4 linked regions of the Homo sapiens genome follow. The protein of the gene in region 3 purifies or fractionates together with the protein of the main gene of each other region. This does not show direct contact. Each region holds a gene or a part of one and is shown on either strand. Other genes may lie near its edges.

What was found. The genes of interacting proteins can lie anywhere in the genome.
Region 1: the proteins of POLR3E (region 3) and BDP1 purify together in Homo sapiens (affinity purification with mass spectrometry; 2 studies listed by BioGRID and IntAct, with this or other methods). This does not show direct contact.
Region 2: the proteins of POLR3E (region 3) and DNAAF10 purify together in Homo sapiens (affinity purification with mass spectrometry; 3 studies listed by BioGRID and IntAct, with this or other methods). This does not show direct contact.
Region 4: the proteins of POLR3E (region 3) and RPAP2 purify together in Homo sapiens (affinity purification with mass spectrometry; 3 studies listed by BioGRID, with this or other methods). This does not show direct contact.

The regions. Positions count from the first base shown.
Region 1 is NC_000005.10:71,565,986-71,568,320, forward strand, and holds the end of BDP1 (transcription factor TFIIIB component B'' homolog), read left to right. Parts: 3' UTR 1-1,835; downstream 1,836-2,335. UniProt on the Homo sapiens protein: General activator of RNA polymerase III transcription. Requires for transcription from all three types of polymerase III promoters. Requires for transcription of genes with internal promoter elements and with promoter elements upstream of the initiation site.
Region 2 is NC_000002.12:68,144,028-68,147,527, reverse strand, and holds part of DNAAF10 (dynein axonemal assembly factor 10), read left to right. Parts: coding exon 1-61; intron 62-2,812; coding exon 2,813-2,943; intron 2,944-3,500. UniProt on the Homo sapiens protein: Key assembly factor specifically required for the stability of axonemal dynein heavy chains in cytoplasm.
Region 3 is NC_000016.10:22,324,909-22,328,408, reverse strand, and holds part of POLR3E (DNA-directed RNA polymerase III subunit RPC5), read right to left. Parts: intron 3,205-3,500; coding exon 3,143-3,204; intron 2,649-3,142; coding exon 2,131-2,648; intron 1,739-2,130; coding exon of another isoform or gene 1,649-1,738; exon of another isoform or gene 1-1,648. UniProt on the Homo sapiens protein: DNA-dependent RNA polymerase catalyzes the transcription of DNA into RNA using the four ribonucleoside triphosphates as substrates.
Region 4 is NC_000001.11:92,305,559-92,309,058, reverse strand, and holds part of RPAP2 (putative RNA polymerase II subunit B1 CTD phosphatase RPAP2), read right to left. Parts: intron 1,872-3,500; coding exon 1,783-1,871; intron 1-1,782.

The sequences.
Region 1 (2,335 bases), on a different chromosome or scaffold from region 3:
AAGGCATTAAATTTATGTTTGTCTCCTTTTTCTGTTTAATTTTAAAGATATTTAAAATGATATAACTAAAAATGTTTAGCTGGTGTATATGTTTTGAATACCTTTTTCCCCTCAGTTTAGTATATTGACTTTGTACTGTAAATTTTTCTGCTTTTCTTGGATAATCTCAGGATTTTCATGAGGATAGGGGGAACTCAACTTTATTTATGAGACAAAATTTCCATACAAAGCTCAATCTCCTTTATACACCCACAGACATAATATTAGTTTTTAAAAAGCCAATTTCTTCATAGTTTTTTCCCATTAAATTCTCAAGGAACACTTGGATCTTTAAGCACGGAACATAATCATGATGTTAAAAACAGAGAAAATAAGGCTTTATAAAGTTAATGATTATCATCAGTATGAATTTAAGGTTTGTTTTAATTTCAAGATTTGATTTTTTATACGTGTAATTCTATTATCTACCCAAGCAGATCTGTAGTGGTTCCAATTAGACTTCTCAAACAGCAAATTTATCCTGATTTTATTTGAAAAGCCTCTTGGATTGATAGTATAGTAGCTCAGGCATTGGAAACTTTCTGCAAACTGTTTTGGGTTTGCAGGCCAGATGGTCTCTGTGGCAGCTACTCAGCTCTGCAATTTCAGTGTGAAAGAAGCCATAGACAGTACTTGAATGAAGGACTGTGGCTGGATTGGCCTTTTAGTTTGACCCCCTACATTAGGCCCCAAATTTTCTTACCCTGAGGTGCTGATATCTGTATGGATGAGTTATTTGTCACTAAAGTTATGAGTTGTGCCTAAAAGTTAAAACTGTTGACTGTATTATGTAATGATCAGTATTTCAGTTGGGAAGATATTTTAGAGTCTAGATAATTATGTTTGTATATTGAAAAAATGGTGGCCAGTTTTTAAGTTCCTTAATAGAAGAGAATTATGTCTCAGCACATATAACAGTAATGCTAATTTATTGAAACTACTGCTGTTAGAGCACTTCTTATTCATTGTCTTTTAGTGAAATTTATGGCGTAACACTTTGTCAGAGAGGAGGCTATATAATTCGGAGCGGAAATTGTCTATAAGTAGGCATTTATTTCATGATTGATATGTCACAGAAATCATGGTAGTAAATCACATTGCTATTTGAATACCCTGTTTTTGTAAGTTTTTAAAACTCATATTCTGAAAAGATTTCATTCTCTTAGTGTTAGCTTGGGAGTTAGATTGCCATGATTAAACTATTATTTATCCTTGTGTAATATTAGTTTTTAACTTTAACATCTGTTTCTTTTTAATCTATAATGAGCTAGTTTTATGGAAAATGGAATTTCTTACTATATAAAGAATACAGAGACTCATTGTATTAGAGAATCAAGTCAGCCAGCTAAAGTATCCTACTGTTAAATCCTTAAACCTAATTTTGGAAAAGAGAAAGTTAATCAATGTATTTACCTTACATGTTGGAAAGAACTATGTTAGGTCTGATTCATGTGAAGAAGATGTTGCAAAGGATTTATTTCACAAATTTTAAAGGAGATATGAGTAAAAGTTTTTATCTTTTCTTGACTTTTTCTCCTGAACACTTATGTCTTAGCAAGTGGTCAACATGAGGATTTGAACGCCTAATTGTTGGTAAATGGTTGAGGCATGACAAAAATATTAATATCCACTGTTTACCATCATGTTATTTGAAACAAAAGTGACCATGTATACTATCTTGCTTGAAGAAGTCTTTGACAGAAAAAGCAATATCATGTCATTTATAAATTTTCTTGTTCTAAAGAAAGCAGTTATATATATATATAAATTATGTAAATAAAAGTTATTTTATATCATTTCTGTTGTGTCCTTTTAAGATGACTAAATAAAGAATTGGCTGGGTATCGTGGCTTACACCTGTAATCCCAGCACTTTCGGAGGCCGAGGTGGGAGGATTGCTTGAGCCCAGGAGTTCAAGACCAGCCTGGGCAACATAATGAGACCTCATCTCTACAAAAAAATTAAAAATCAGCCAACTGTGGTGGTGTGTGCTTTTGGTCCCAGTTACTCAGGAGGCTGGGATGAGAGGTTCGCTTGAGCCCAGGAGGAGGTTGAGGCTGCAGTGAGCTGTGATTGCCCCACCACACTCCAGCCTGGATGACAGAAGAAGACCCTGTCTTTGTGGGGAGGAGACAAATTTTTGACAGGTGTGCATGTCGTTATTTCAAAGCTGTAGGAGTCTGCAATGTGATTGTCCTAATAGTATTTGGAAGAGACTCCACACAGCATCTCTGTTTGCTGCAGCATCGCATCCTGAATCTGCTGGAGAGCCCTGTCTTACATTGGGTTTCACTAA
Region 2 (3,500 bases), on a different chromosome or scaffold from region 3:
CAACATCTTTACAGCAGAGATATTTAGCTACTGGAGATTTTGGTGGAAACCTTCATATATGGTAAGATGATTTAGTCAGTATTCAGACAGATGAGATAGGCAATTTATTTGATAGTTTCATTACTCTTTCTCTGAAAGAGAGAATTTTAATTTTAAAATCTTTCTATGTTCCATTTTAACTATAAAAATATGAGAATTGTCTCTAATATATATTTCTAGATTTCATATTCAAAATCCATTAAAAAATACTAACCTATTTTTCTTTAGATATTTTGGATAATATTATCAATGCTTATTTTCACACACGCAGTTTGGTGCTAGCATTTAATGCCATGTATTTGTAAATAAAGGTCTGTTCCCCCTCCAACTTTAAAAATACAGTATATAAAAATGCATATGAATAACACTGAAAAAGTAGATATTATTTATATTTCAGCAAGAGATTTAGCACTGCAGAACGTTTGTTTTTTAAAGCTTTAACATCTAAGCACAACTTTTTAGAAACATATCTGTTGAACAAATCAAAATAAACTTTTTTTGAATGGGCAAAATCACAATTCTGCCAAATGCCTTTTTCGTGTTTTACCTAGAGTTGTTTCTTATTTAGAGTGGAATGAATTGAAATTCCTTTTTAATTACTTTGCAGGAAAATCTATTATTTTAATCATTTAAAGTATACAGCAGTGTTCTAAAATATTATGGAGAAAGTTCTAGAGTGTTCTAGAAAACCCGTCTTCCCTGCATCATGTTTTCTAACATGACCTTTCTTGAGTCTCACTTAGAACCTGCTACTGTATAATTACATTACTTATAACATATTTATCTGTCTTAGAATCATAACATTAAACAAAATGGAACTACTTCAATTTCTCCTTGCTTTAACTCCTTAATAATTAAATTAGCATGTATTCATTAGTTCTTAGATGCTTTGTCATATGCTTCGAGAGATACTGTGAGAAAGGCAAGTTTGAATGCTATTTTAAAAAATAAATATATTTCAACACAAGAGTATTCAAAATATTAGATAGTACCATTGACCATCTTTCTAATACAGTTTCCTAGTATAGTACAGATATTACCAATTTACTTTCATTGATAAATCTTATAATTTCATGTTAAAAAATAATGTTTTAAAGTCTATAAAATAGTAAAACAGTCATTTCAAGTAGAACCACAATCTTGTTTAATCTCTTGATTAGTTCATAATGATGATAAATGTCATTTCTAAACTAGGTTGAAATATCTCAAAAAATTTTTTTTGTCTTTGAGATGGAGTCTCGCTCTGTTGCCTAGGCTGGAGTGTAGTGATGCGATCTCGGCTCACTGCAACCTCCACCTCCCGGTTTCAAGTGATTCTCCTGCCTCAGCCTCCCAAGTAGCTAGGATTACAGGTGCCCACCACCACGCCTGGCAATTTTTTGTGTTTTTAGTAGAGATGGGGTTTCGCCATGTTGGCCAGGCTAGTCTCGAACTCCTGACCTCAGGTGATCTACTCACCTTGACCTCCCAAAGTTCTGGGATTACAGGCGTGAGCCACTGCACCTGGCCATAGATTTTTTATTAGTAAGGTTTTACTAATAAATCTTGGCCCAATAATAAATTGGAATTATATTTCATGTATAGTCACATTCATTTAAAAAATCTGTAAGTTATTGAAAACTAAATTATTAAGAGAAATGTAAATAGAAGTTTCCGTAGAAAAGCAAAAGAAGGGGAGAAATGGAGACGGGTAAGAAAAGGAATGTGTGAGGATCACCTAGTCAAGCCATTCATTGCCCAGTAGTGCAGTTGTGGTAATCAGTACTTTCCTGAATGCCTTTCTGTGAATTGACCTATTAGACGAACTTCAGCCTGTCTTGCAGTAATACATATTGTTACCAGTATGATGACACACTGAAAAATATGTCAGTAGAAAATCAGTGTGGACTTCAGTGGGAAAATAGTACATTATAAAGGAAGAAATGTGTACAAAGTAAACACTACTCATATTTTATCCTTTAAAAAGGTCATAAGATCCAACTACTGAGGCCTACTTTGGAAGAATTCTATATCACTTTGAATTTACATATATATATATTTAGATAGAAATATACTAGCTGCGTTTTAACAAAAACCTTTGCATATTTGGTGGATGGAATTTAACAATGAGTATGATGATTTAGTAAGGCCAGCTAATGGTGTCCATCTTCTATTCACCTCCCATATTTTTGTAACAGCCACTAAAACCCAGAATTGAAAAAAACTGTCCTGAGAGCCACGTCCTCAGATACATGGTTGTTTTTTTCCTTTTCTTTCTTTTTTTTTTTTTCTGAAACAGGGTCTTGCTCTGTCACCCAGGCTGGAGGGCAGTGGCATGATCTCAGCTCACTGCAGCCTTGACCTCCCTGGGCTTTACTCTATATTTGAAGCAGTATTTTTTCAGACTTCAGTGTACCACAGTCATTGTTTTGGGGACCCATCTGAAATCCTGATTCATTATGTTTGGGGAGGAGCCCATGAGTCCACGTTTATCAACAAGCAAACCTGGTAATTCATCTGTGGGGGTCTTGCATAGATCGTCTTTGAAGAACACTAAGTATGGTGAGCTCAGGATTGGAATTTCAAGTTGAATGATGACAGTTCTCAATGGGGGCTTGAAAGAAGTTGAATGGAGAGAAAATTTCAGAAGTGTAAATAAATGTATAAACTATCTTCATAGCAAAACCTTAATTTCTATACAGAAAAAATCTAACTATAATATATCTTTTTGAATTTCAGTAGTAGACTTATATGTTTGGGATATGTGGTGTAAGAAGCTGTGTTTGTTGTTTAGGAATTTAGAAGCTCCAGAGATGCCAGTATATTCTGTAAAGGGCCATAAAGAAATTATAAATGCCATAGATGGCATAGGTGGACTAGGAATTGGAGAAGGAGCACCTGAAATTGTGACTGGCAGCCGAGATGGTGAGTCCCTGTATTCTATGTATTTTGTTTATTTATTTTAATGGAAATCTCTATGCAGCAGTACATCCTCTCTGAGTAAAAAATCCCCTTCAGTCACCTTGACTCCCTAAATCTAACAGTCTTGCTGCTACTTTTTTAACAGACAAGTTTGATTGCTTATCTCTCGATTGTTTCAGACTTTTGGCTATTTTGAGATAGATTCATAGCACTTATTAACACTATTTTAGTGTTGAGCTGGTTCAGCTACTAACAATGATGGTTTCCTCTGAACCTTGAAGGATTTAAAATGTCTTTACAGGTTTTTGAGGCAGCTGACGATATAATGTGGGTGGCAGCTTTTCATTTTCTTTTTTTAAAAGGCAGAATTAGTACTTGTGAAAATTGTCATATTGACAGCTGCTTGAAAACTGAAGTTCTGTGATCCATCCACTAAGCATTATAGAGAGTTCCAAAGGCACCAACTCAGCTCTTCCACCCTGCAGTGACCAACAAGGGCCAGGTCTTTTGGTGTCCGAAGTGGTACTGCATGACTTTAATAGAGTCAGAAATGTTGTTGC
Region 3 (3,500 bases):
TGGGTTCCAATCCCAGCTTCTGCTACTCACCATCTCTGAGGGCCTTGGGCAGCCACAAACCTGTGCCTCTCACCTCACCATGGGGAGGAGGCCAGCACACCCCCCAGGGCCTGACAGGGCTTCAGCGAGAGGGGGAGTGTGATGGGCCCAGTGAAATGCCCGGCTTCGAGTCTGCAGATATCCTCCGTACAGTGGGGAAGCTGCGTCTGTTTCCCATCAGCCTGGCACCAACTCAACTGTGCTTTAACACCCAGAGTCCTCCCTCCTGAAGATGCCAACCCTGATGGAGGGGCGCCCCCTTCCCCATAACTCTTGGGGTACCCTGGGGGTTCTTTTCAACTGCTTCCCACATGTACCATGTCAGTGTGGGTTAGAGGCACTGCCTGACTCCCAAGCAATCCAGGCCACTTGGTCCAAAGGTAGACCAGGACAAGTGTGACACAGGCCTGGGTCCTGGAGAGAAGGGGACAGGGGAGGGGGCATCTGGGATGGTAGTTTCCAGTCCTGGTTCCATCACACAAGTAGCAATAATGGTTACTACCAGTAAAAGCCCTGTGAGGCCTCCAATACACATTTGCATTTGAGCATTAGAAACTGGGGAGGTAGTACATGGGGAAAAGTAAGCTCAGAGAGGTTTGCTCACTGTCCATGGTCACACAGCTAATAAGCAGCAGAACCAGGAGTTCAAGTCAAGTTCTCGATCTATTCACTTGCCCTGGACCTCAGCTCCCTCATGTACAACACAGAGGTGGCTGGGATCGGAGGTCTCTTACGTCTTGGATGTGACTACAATACAGTCTCCTTGTCAGGATGGCAAGGAGAGCATTACAGTTAGGGCCATGGTGTCTCCTGGAGACGCTGGCCCCACCCCAAAGCAACATGGACAGAGGGGGTCCGGAAGGAGGGGTGAGGGTGTCTGAGGGTGGCCATGTCCCACCCCTCACCTCTGTCCACTCCAGCGGCCCAAAACAACTAATGTCAGGCAGGTGTCCTGCCTGTCCTGGCCCAGCTCATGAAGAAAGGTGAGCTTGTGGAGACCCAGACCCATGTGCTGGGTGGGCAGGAGCTCCGAACTCTGCCAGTACCTCCCACAGGGGGCTGCCTGCCAGCAGGGCCGATCCCCTGAGACAGCCTAGGCTCCACAAGGCCTCCTGTCCTAGTTTCTATTCCTCATACACAGGGATGGGCCTTGGCCTCAGATCATCACCCAAGGCTGCAGGCCCGCTCCTGACCTTGGCAATGAAAACATCAATGCTTTCTTAGAGACCACCACAGCCCCACCTCACCCCATTTTGCTGCCAGGTCTGGGCAGAGCCTTGTGGAAAAGGAGCACGGGAAAGGCGTGCCTCAGGCAGCACCTGGCGCTCTCTATCCTCAGCGCAGGGAAACGGTCCCCAGCAAGCACTCTGCTCCCCCGTCAGGGCCCCTCCCAGTGACAGAAAAGCAGCCCAGGGGGAAGGGGCAGGAGGCTTGCAATACCACACTCAAGGCCTGGCACTGGAAGTGCTGAGAGCACAGCGCTGAGCTGGTCAGCTTGCTTCTGATGCACAGGGAGGCCGCCAGGACCCAGGCCCAAGCTGGGGCGTGGCGCAGCTGTGGGGAAGCAGCTCATCTTAGCTGAGCAGAAAGGATTCAAAACTCCAGGCCACTATACTGAGGTCCAAATTCCAGCTCTACTACCTCCTAGGTAGTGACCTTTAAACGTACATTTCATTCCTTGGAGCCTCAGTTTCTTCATCTGCAGATTGCAAAGAAGATCAAACGATCTTAGAAGTTAAATCATTCCAAACAATGGCAAAGCTAGTAGGAAACAGGTGTTCTTGGTGGGGGACAGGGTGAGAAACCAGGCAGGGGCCCTGTTTCACTAGGCCCTGCTGCAGGCCAGGCAATAGGCCGGGCCTTCAGACACCGTATTTAGCCCCTACCACAGTCCTGTGACATAAAACCCAACATGATCCCATTTCATGAGAATAGAGCCTCAGAGAGGCTGACTTGCCCATGTCACACCTAGGCCCACGTGAGAGCAGATGCTCACCAAGCATGGCCTCCCGTGTCCCCACGTGGCCTCCCAACAGCTGGTTCTCCCCACCCCCCACCCCCCATGCCCCTGGCAGGCAGGGCTCTACTTACAGGCACCAGTATCTGCTTGCAACCGGCGGCCAGCACCGTGTCCTGTAGCATGCGGTCCGAGATGCCGCTGAAGAGTGTGTGGCCGGGGGGCAGGCTGGCCAAGTGCAGATTGAAGAGGCGCTTGAGTTCGCTCAGCGTGAGCACAAACTGTCTCTGAAAGGTGGCCTCCACGAAGGCCTTCAGTTCCCGAGCCACAGGGGTGCTGGCGCAGCCCTGGGGCGGGTGCCCGTTGAAGCTGTCTGTGCCCGCAGCCCGCCCGAGAGGCAGCCCGTTGGCCAGCTTGCTGTGGAGGCCGCTGGGGGAAGTGTCCATGGGCTCCTCCTCCGCCTCCTGCTCCTCGTCCTCCTCGCCCTCCTCGCTCACGGGCTCCTCCTTGATCCGCACACCGGGCGGGACCGCAGGCACCCGCAGCTGCTCCTTCCGCCGCTGCAGCTCCCGCTCCAGCAACGCGTGGTTCTGCTGGGCCTTGGTTTTGGCTACTTGGATCCGCTGGTCCCCACAGACCAGCCCGGCAGGCCCTGCGGGGAGGGAGGCAGCACTGCTCAGGAGGGCACAGGGATCTGAAGCCAAAAGCCCAGCAGGGGACCGCGGGGCTGCAGCAAGTGGTCCCGTCCTGGTCTCATCCCCAACCTTTCTCGAAAATCAGCCACCCCATCAGTGGAAGAGAGAACCGTCCCAGCGTGCCGAGAGTCATGCGGGGAAGGGTGCTGCTGAGTTCCTCCCCCCAGCAGCTCTTCCGGGCCCGCTTGTTGACCCAAGAGGGTGAGTGAGCCTCAGAGACCTGGAACCCAGACTCAGCCCTGGAATCCGCAAGCCTCCGTCCCTGAGGCTCTGCTGCTGGGCAAGCGACCAGCTGCGGTCTGTGGGTGGCAGGAAAGGAAGGAGGGTGAAGGGTGAACGGTGAGAGCCCTCCACCCTCTCCAGGTCCGGGCCTGACAAGCTCTAGCACAGCAGCCCTTCCGGAGCCACAGTGTAGGAGCCGGGGCCTCCCAGCCCAAAGCCCCTCACACACCTGATTGTGCATCCGGCTTCTTTGGCATGGTTTCCTTTACAAGATTATAGACTTTTTCCAGTCTGAAAAGAAGAGTAACCCCATTAACTTTAAACCACGTCCCCTACCATCTGCTTCACAAGAGAAACAACCACCCCTTAGGCCCCAGGACACGCTGGTTACTGACAGCGCAGGCTTGGAGCTCAGCCAGCCCTACTGAGTCCCTCTTCTGGCAGAGTGCACAGCCCCAGGACCACCCAGACCCCATCAGTCTTCTGCCAACACCCCTCTGGTCCCCAGGCCCCAGCTCTTGCTCCTGAGTGCTCCCTCTCTCCATCACATCCCTCTTCCCTGAGCCCTCAGAGCACGGCCACCCTGA
Region 4 (3,500 bases), on a different chromosome or scaffold from region 3:
TGGGAAACAGTGAGCATTCTGAATAGAGGATGGTGAGATTTTAGGAAAAGGTTACAGGAAGACCTGTTTTACTTCATTTTATTTATTTATTTAATTTTTGAGACAGAATCTCACTCTGTGGCCCAGGCTAGAGTTCAGCAGCACGATCTTGGCTCACTGCAACCTCCGCCTCCCAGGTTCAAGTGATTCTCCTGCCTCAGCCTCCTGAGTAGCTGGGATTACAGGTGCCCGCCACCATACCCAATTAATTTTTGTATTTTTAGTAGAGACAGGGTATCACCATATTGGCTAAGCTGGTCTCAAATTCCTAAACTCAAGTGATCCACCCACCTTGGCTTCTCAAAGTGTTGGGATTATAGGCATGAGCCACTACACCAGGCTGGAAGATTTGTTTTAAATTAGCTAAAGGAAGGACCAATACCTATGCTTGAAGAAAACAGAGATGGCAGGAAAGGTAATTTGGTAAATGGTTTTGAAGCAGTTGAGGTAGATATGAGGGTGGCACAAAGGGTTAAATTTAAGATGTAGAGAAAATATCTTTGGAAGCAAAGTTAAGGATAACTTGAGGAAACACTGGTTTCAGTGGGGAATAAAACATGTTGCTCTCAGAGGACTGGGGAAGTACTGGGCAGCTCTAGTGACAGAAATATTAAGAAAGGAGAAAAAGGATAAGTAAAAAAGTACTCTTAGCTTCCCAGTCATGTCGAACAATGCCAGAGTCTTTTATTTTCCCAACAAGGAAGCTGGCAGACTGGTGGTGAAATGATGAACAATTTAGTCTTAATTATGTTTAACTCAATTATCAAGGGCCACACAGTGTTAAGTTTTCCATATCCTAAACCACACAGGATTGGATCGGCAGGCAGAGGTGTCTGCCATCACAGGTGCTGTTGTCAGCATAATTGATGTTATTTGAATTGAGAGTGGTGTTACATCGCCTTACGCATCAGAAAAGACTTCAAGGTTTGCTTTTTTTTTTTTGAGCCAGAGCTTTTTAGCTAACCTGCATCTCATTATGTTTAGGTCATTAGTTTATTTAGCATAGGTCCTACCTTACCACAAGTAACACTGCCTTGTGTTGCTATAATACACTCTTTCAAACATGAATTTATTTTGGGCATTATCTCATTAAGCATTTCATTGGAATTTCTAGGCAATACAGTTTAATTACCATAAGGATAACTTGTTACCTTTATATTATCATGCCATTTCACCCTCAATAATAAAATTTTCTTGACTTTAGCATCTAGTAAAACATTGCCAGTATTTAAATCATTTCCCAAGAGGCTAAACTCCAGCATTGCCCATAAACTCTTTTTACAAAAAAAAAAATTACTTTTTAATTGTGTCTTTAAATTGATAAAATAGTGTACTGATTTTTATAAAGATTAAATGAACCTGAACTTTCTAACCTTTCTCATAGCAGAGTTCACCTGGATCCTAAGACCCAGTAACTTCTGAAAAAATTTAACATTCTTCCTCCAGGATTATTATATTAACAGGATTCACAGACATAACTAGCATCACAGGACACTGGAGTTAAAGTTCTGATTTTGCAATTAAAGCTAAAACAACAAACAAATAACATTTGTATGTATGCATTTTCTGATTTTAAGTGTAAAATCCTTAATAGCTATGCTTAAAATATAACCATTTCCCCATAAAGTATATAAAATGGTAACTTTTTACAGAAAACTAGACTTACTCTCAGCTAATCTCAAAAAGCAGAAACAAATTATTAGAATATATGAACAAATGTATATACACAATGACTTAAATTACCTCTCTTCTTCTCGAACCCATACTGGAGTTTTGGGAATTTGTGCTTCAAAAAACTTAGATGCTTGATAACAAAAATTGCTGCAAAAAGACTGAAAAGAACATTATAAATCTAGTTTTTTTCTTATCATGAAACATTACCTACATACAGTTGAGAGTATAAAACATAAATGTATCGTTCAAAGAATAAAATGGAAACCTACAGATCTACCACCCAAGGTAAGAAATAAGATACTGAACCTTTGAAGGCCTCTATGTGCCCCTTCCCAACTGCATCACCCTCCGCATTCCCCAGAAGTAACCACTACCATAAATTTGGTGTTAATCATTCCCTCATTTCCTTTCAGTTTTAGCACCTGTGTACATATCCCTATTAAAAAATATTCAGTTTTGCCTATTTTTAAACATTTTTTTGAATGGAATAATATTGTTATACATTCTTATCTTACTTCATTCACTTATTAAATTTTATTTTTTTTAGGGACAGGGTCTCACTCACTGTAGCCTCAAACTCCTGGGCTCAAGTAATCCTCTGGTTTCAGCCTCCTGAGTAGCTTGGACTACAGGCGTGCCACCACACCTGGCTATTTTATTTTTTTGTAGAGATGGGGTCTCTATTTGTTGCCCAGGCTGGTCTCTATCTTCTCTCCCTGGCCTCCCAAAGTGCTGGAATTATAGGTGTGAGCCACCGTACCTAGCCACTTCTTTTGTTTAAAATTATGTTTTTAAGATTCATTCAAGTAGTTGTAGCTTATTAATTTTCACTGTGTACTACATTCCATTGTTAGAGTATTACACTTTACCATTTATAGACAATTGAGTTGTTTCTAATTTTTTTGCTATCACTACAATGTTACTATAAACTTTTTTTTACAATTAAAAAATGTTCACAATTGTGGTAAAATATACATAATCTAAAATTTATCATCATAAGCATTTTTAAGTATATAGCACAGTGGTATTAAGTACCTTCACACTGTTGTGCAACTATTACCACCATTCATCTTTAGAACTCTTTTTATCTTACAGAACTGAAACCCTATACACTAACTTCCCATTCCCACCTCTCTTGATGATCATTCTACTTTCTGTCTCTGTTAATCTGACTTCTCTAGGTACCTCATATAAGTGAAAGCATACAGTATTTGTCCTTTTGTGCTGGCTTATTTCACTTAGCATATTATCTTCAAGGTTCATCCACCTTGTAGCATGTGTCAGAATTTCCTTCCTTTTTTTAAAGGCTAATATTCCATTGTGTGTATATACGACATTGTTTATCCAGCTATAAACATTTTTATACATACATGCTGGTGTACATGTGTAAGAATTTTTTTAGGGTTTATACCAAGGAATAGAAAGGCTTAATTATAGAGAATGTGCAAAGACTTCACCAGACAAATGCCAAGCCATTTCTCAAAAAGGCTGTACCAATTTTCATTCCCACTAGTTGCAAAAAGATTTCCTAACATTCGCAATTTTGTGGGCTGTGAAAACAAAACTCAGTGTGTTTTTATTTGCTATTTCTCTGATTACTGATAATATTTAGCATCTTTTCATATGTTTATTAGCCATTCAAGTTCCTTGTGTAAATTTTTCTATTAGTTTGTCTGTCTTTTTCTTATAGATCATATATTCTAGATATGATTCTATGGTCAGTTAACATTCTGCTTTGTGGCTTCTCTTTTCATTTTTTTTTTGAAACTTCTGATGAACAAAAGTTT